Regions from separate parts of the Homo sapiens genome. Here region 1 is linked to region 2. The links come from fine-mapping of genetic effects on gene expression. A gene starts in region 2. The other region holds a variant in brackets. All regions are shown on one strand. Distances are from middle to middle.

Evidence for each region. PIP is the estimated chance that this variant, and not a neighbour inherited with it, causes the effect.
Region 1: its variant is the best candidate, but not a certain one, in a credible set for the expression of FARP1 in fibroblasts (GTEx, PIP 0.56).

Annotation. Positions count from the first base shown.
Region 1 is chr13:98,207,048-98,209,945 of GRCh38, forward strand. The region is part of intron 1 of FARP1 (FERM, ARH/RhoGEF and pleckstrin domain protein 1); the gene reads left to right. MIR3170 (microRNA 3170) reads left to right here and starts at 1,477; the gene lies at 1,477-1,553. The variant A/C (reference allele first, on the strand shown) is at 1,260.
Region 2 is chr13:98,141,506-98,144,403 of GRCh38, forward strand. It overlaps FARP1 (FERM, ARH/RhoGEF and pleckstrin domain protein 1), which reads left to right and starts at 1,589. Exons shown (of 27, transcript NM_005766.4): 1 at 1,589-1,987. It overlaps LOC105370328 (a long non-coding RNA gene), which reads right to left and starts at 2,405. Exons shown (of 3, transcript XR_931670.4): 1 at 2,334-2,405. RefSeq lists silencers at 1,040-1,089, 1,330-1,639.

The DNA of each region.
Region 1 (2,898 bases), 66 kb after region 2:
TCAACTGTGGTTACCCATTTATGACTTGCCAGCGTTCCTGAGATGTTCCCTTAGCGTTCTTAGGATGCTCAACTCAAAACTCTTGGCTGGATTTATGATTGAATTAAACAGACTTTTCCATGTACAGCAACAGTCTGCATGCAAGTATGATAACAGAGAGAAAGTATGACATACTTTGTTCAAGCATCAGTATCCAGAAGTAGAAATAACCTAGACATGAGATCATTTGAGAACTAAAGAGAAAGGAAGTTAAGCTACCAAGTATCTGTTAATGACTAACTCAATTAAATTTTTAAATGCCAAGGTGCTAAAAATTAGAATATATATTTATCTGGGGATTTTGGGCAAGAGGGAGAGAAAGGATTCAGTTCAGAGGATGAGGAGTCTTGCTTTTTGCTTAGGTAGGACAAGGAGAAGATATCTGCAGGGAGGGTCTGAGCACCTTTAGGCTGGGGTGAGGTGGGAGAGTAGAGCCCTTCCTTCCTGCCGTCATCGGCTCCCTGGATGGGCATCAACACCATAGCCAGGTCCATGCCTGCTTGACTCAGAGTGACAAGCCCAGCTATAGCCCAGTGTGAATTACCGTGCACAGGGCCTGTCCCTGCTGAGCAAGTGCAGGGCAGAAGGGGTGGGGTGGGGGAGGGGCCACACCAAAGTACGAAAAGTGCATGGAGGGGCTGGGAATGGGGAAGGCCAACTTGACTGATGGCATAGTTTTCTCTGGAGATTGCATTTATTTTTAACCATGAGACAGTGAACAGAAAACATATATGGAATAGAAGTAATTTTGCCTGGCTTGTGAAGATTATTTTGGACACAACTGACTTCATAATGAATATACTGCTCCCCGACCACCACCTCCACACACACACACACACACACACACACACACACACACACACACACACACACACACACACACTTTGATTCATTGGCCCAGTATTGAGGATCTCTCTTCCACTTCGGTGAAGGGCACTAGGCTGGGATTCTAGATTAACCAGGCTGGTCTCATCTCTCAAGGCTAATGAGTGAATGAACCAAAGCAGAGATCACACAACCAAACAGATTAGAAACAGATGCTTAGAAAAAGCTTATTTGAGGCAGAAGTGAGAAAGGCACTTATATAACAGACCTGTGGAATCAGGCATTCAAAAAAGAAGGGGCCAGCGTGGTGGCTAACTCCTGTAATCCCAGCACTTGGATCATTTGAAGTCAGGAGTTCAAGACCAGCCTAGCCAACATGGTGAAACCCCATCTCT[A/C]CTGGGGAGAAAAAAAAAAAAAAAAGCCGGGCATGGTGGTGGGCATCTGTAATCCCAGCTACTGGGGAGGTTGAGGCAGGAGAATCGCTTGAACCTGGAAGGCAGAGGTTGCAGTGAGCCGAGATTGCGCCATTGCACTCCAGCCTGGGTGACAGAACAAGACTCCATCTCAAAAAAAAAAAAAAAGCAGTTCTCAGATCTTCACTCCATATGTCATCTGGTAACACTGGGGTTCTGAGACAGACAGTGTTAGCTCCAGAAGCATTGCCTGTCTTAGAACCCCTATGTTACCAGACGACATAAGGAGTGAATAAAATCTTCAAAAGGCTTTGATGGACCGTAGGTGAGGAAGGTGAGTGTGGGAGAAGTCAGGAGTAAATGGTGTTTCCTAGACAGTGATCAGGTGTTTCCTAGACATGTTCGATGGAAGGACACGCCCTTTTAGGCCCTGGTGATTTGAGTCGCTGTGGATGTGATCCCATAGTTTCTGATTTGCTGACCTCAGGGCCAGCCCTTGTGTCTATGGTGACAGCATTAGAGGTTTCATTGCAGAGGAAGTAAGGAATTCATTAGGAAACTTCTGGGGACCTACTCTTAAGGAAAAGGCTGAGAATGAGTTAGGGAAGAAAACTCTACAAAATGAGATTTGGAAACCGGATGGTTTTCCTGAAGAGAAGGCTTTAACACTTTCCTGAGTTTTGTTTGTTTGTTTTTGTATTTGAGACAGAGTCTTGCTCTGTCACCCAGGCTGGAGTGCAGTGGCACGATCTCGGCTCACTGTAAGCTCCGCCTCCCGGGTTCACGCCATTCTCCTGCCTCAGCCTCCCGAGTAGCTGGGACTATAGGCGCCCACCACCATGCCCGGCTAATTTTTTGTATTTTTAGTAGAGACAGGGTTTCGCCGTGTTGTCCAGGATGGTCTCGATCTCCTGACCTCGTGATCCACCCGCCTTGGCCTCCCAAAGTGCTGGGATTACAGGCGTGAGCCACCGCGCCCAGCCAACTTTCCTGAGTTTTAAAGCAGTGGTAGAAGTTTCCAGGTGAAGAAAGAGGGCAAAGTGCTGAGCCACAGTGAGCCACGTGTGGAGACCTGGAGGCAGACAGAGGCAGCGGGAGGGGAGGGAGAAGCTGAGGGATCAGGAGACAGACTATCTGGGGAGGAAAGATTTTTTTTTTTTTTTTTTTTTTTTAAGGAAAATAACTTTGTTGGCTGGGCACGGTGGGTCACGCCTGTAATCCCAGCACTTTGGGAGGCTGAGGCGGGTGGATTACTTGAGGTCAGGAGTTCAAGACCAGCCTAGCCAACATGGTGAAACCCTGTCTCTACTAAAAATACAACAATTAGCTGGGTGTGGTGGTGTGCGCCTGTGATCCCAGCTACTCGGGATGCTGAGGCAGGAGAATCGCTTGAACCTGGGAGACAGAGGTTGCAGTGAGCCAAGATGTTGCTATTGCACTCCAGCCTGGGCAATAGAGTAAAACTGTGTCTCAAAAAAAAAAAAAAAAAAAAAAAAAAAAAAAAAGAAAAAGCCGGGGGTGGTGGTGCACGCCTGTAATCCCAGCTACCCGGGAGGCTGAGGCAGGAGAATTGCTTGAACCTGGGAGGTGGAGGTTGCAGTGAGCCGAGATTGCGCCACTG
Region 2 (2,898 bases):
GCAACCAGGGTGTTGTTTTTTAATCGCAGATGATTCCATGAGTTTGAGACCCACTGTCCTAACACTGTGATCCTCCAAGTGTGATCCCAGGACCAGAGCAACATCACTATCTGGGAATTTGTTAGAAATGCAAACTCTCAGGCCCCACCCCAAACCTACTGAATCGGCAGCTCTGGGGATGGAGCCTGACAGTCCTTTATCCCTGCAGGCGATTCAGATGCTTGCTAAGGTTTCATTAGGTAGGTCGGGGATGCGGCCCAAGAATGTTCATTTCTTGACGTTTCCAGGGGCTGCTGGTGGTGGTCGTGGTCTGAGAACCACACTTAGAGAATCACGAGCAGAAAAAAATCTGATCTGTGACACACAGCTGGTTGGGCTGACAGAGCAAAGCCTCAAACCCACCATTTCTTCTCTTCAACCACAGACCACCAAATCTGCAAGTATTACATCTCTGCTCCTCCCCAGGAGCTGCCCACAAGCACCCCCTACTTCCAAGACCCCTGTTCTTGTCTCAACCCGCCCTTCTATCAGGGTCCCTACACTCCACTTCTGCCCAGCTCCTGTCCAGCTGTGAGTTCACTTGAGGCCTCTCCCGTGAAATCTGCCCTCTCGGTCTGAGGTCAGGGAACTCCTGTAAGACGCAAAAGGCCCACGGTTCTGAGCCAGTGGCCTCCGAAGGCCGGAATCCGCTAGCCCCGGGTCTGGCAGAACGTCACTTGCTGCGCCCTAGGCCTCTTCCCGCCACGCTTAGAGAGAGGGACTGGAGGCTCAGAAGGGGGAAGAGAAGGTAACGCGGCAGCTGCTGGGTGGGGACGGTGACTGTGCCCCTAGATCGCTGCCTCCTGGGTCCTGAATCTTGCTCCCCGCTCCGTAGAGTTCCCGAAACCCCGAAGGCTCTCAAGCACCGCAAGCCACTCCTAACCTCCCCCACGCCATTCCCCAAGGGCACTGTCCCCCGAGGCTGGGCGGGCGGGAACTGTCATGGGATTCGCTCGGGCGGAGGGCGCTGGGCCAGGACGTGGGCGGGCGCGGGGTGGCCGCCGCTCCCCCAAGCTTAAGTCCCGCGCAGCCCGGGGTGGTGCCGGAAGCCCGTGCCTGTGGCTCCGGGGGAGGGGAGGGCTCGGTGGGTCCCTGAAGACTGTCCTCCCCGCGCGACGTCGCAGGCGAAGCAGCCCCAGGCAGGACCTCAAAAAGCGACCTGCAGAGTCCGAGCCCCTGACCGCCCGCCTGCCGCTCCCGGCTTCGCCGTGCACACGTCTCCCGCTCTCCCCGGTTCGTTTTTCGCCACAGCTGCTGGATTCGCGTCTCGCCAGTGGCGCTCCCCGCGCTGCATTAGGTAGCGCCGCGCGGAGCCCGGCCCTGGCCGGAAGCCCAAGAGAGGCGCAGATCCCCGGCGGCGCGCTGGGCTCGGGAGGCCCCTGGGCGCACCTGCCCGGGCGGAGCGGAGCGGGGCGGGGCGGGCGCAGGGCGCGGGCCCGGACGCTGGAGGGGGCTGTGGCTCTCCCGCGTCCCCGCTGCTCGGGCTGCGCGGCGCCCGCCTCCCCCCGCCGAGGGGCCGGCCCAGACCCGGGGAGGGGCGGTGGCCACTGCACTTCCCGCTCGCCGGCCTCAGAGGCGGCGGGTCCGGCGCGGGCGCAGCGGTGCGGGCGCTCGGCTGGGGCGCGGGGCGGGGACGCGGCCGCTGCCCGCTTTGCGCCGCTCCTCCCTGCGCGAGTAGCGCTGGCCCCGGCGTCGAGGCGGCCATGGCGACCCGGAGCCCGCTCCCCACCCACCCCGCCTGCTCCGCCCTCCCCTCCGCCCCGCGCCACCTTTGATGGCTCGGACCTCAGCCGGCCACCGCCAGCCCTGCTCGCGCGCCCGCGCCGCCGCCGCCCGCGGGTATTAATAGCCGGCGCCGCCGCGCCCTCGGCCGCCGGGGGCTTGGGAGCCGCCGATCCCGGAGCCCGAGCCGGGAGAGGGAGCCGCCGCAGCCGCCGGCGCTGTGGAGGTAGGAGGCGCGCGGTGAACAATGACCGCGGCGGGAGGGCGGGGGCCGGCGGGGTCCGGGCCGCGGGCGGCAACTTGTGCGAGTCCAGGCTCCCGCAGCGCACGGCCGCGGCTGCGGGCGAAGGTGGGCGCGTGGTCCCCGAGGTCCTGCCCTGCGCAGTCGGGCGGCGGGTCGGGCCCGGGCAGCCCCGGCCACCATCGCAGGAGCTCGGGGGCCTCGGGGCTCCGGGCTGCCCCCTGCGCCCCTCTCCCCTCACCTCCGCCGACGTCGGGCTGCGGGGCTCCGCGCCGGTCCCCGCTCGCCTCCCCCGACCCCGGCGCCCTTCCCCCGTTTCCTTCCGTCCTACCCGCCCGCTGACAGCGCTGGACGCCGCTTCCGGACCTCGGGCCGCAATCTCGGCCCCTGAGGCCGGTTGCGGGCCGGGGAGGTGGCCGCTGGCGCGGATGCCGCCGGGTGCCCGCCGCTCGCCCACGCGCGGCGCGAGGGTTCCCGGCGGGTGACAAAGAGGAACACACCCTCTGCCCAAGTTAGATTTGTGTCTCTCTTTACTGTCTGCCTTTATGCAGGGCAAAGTTTTTTTTATTTTTTATTTTTTAAAGCAAAGGACAGATTGCTTTGCGGCGAGTATTTCCAAACAACTTCTGATTGTGGTTTTACGATTCAAGTTCCGGAAACTTTAGCTGTGTGATCCGGCTGGACCCCGGAGACTCTGTGTGTGTGTGTGTGTGTGTGTGTTTTATTTGAGGGGGGGAAATACGAATTCCCTGTAATGAGTCTGGATCTCGTTTGTGGCAGCTGGAGGCCAGCGGCTGTTGGGGATCGAGTAGGGTTCCCCAGAAAGGAGGGAGCTGAGGCTCACAAAGAAGCGAGGCCCTGGTATCTGATCAGTTCGTGGAGACGTGGGAGAGCCT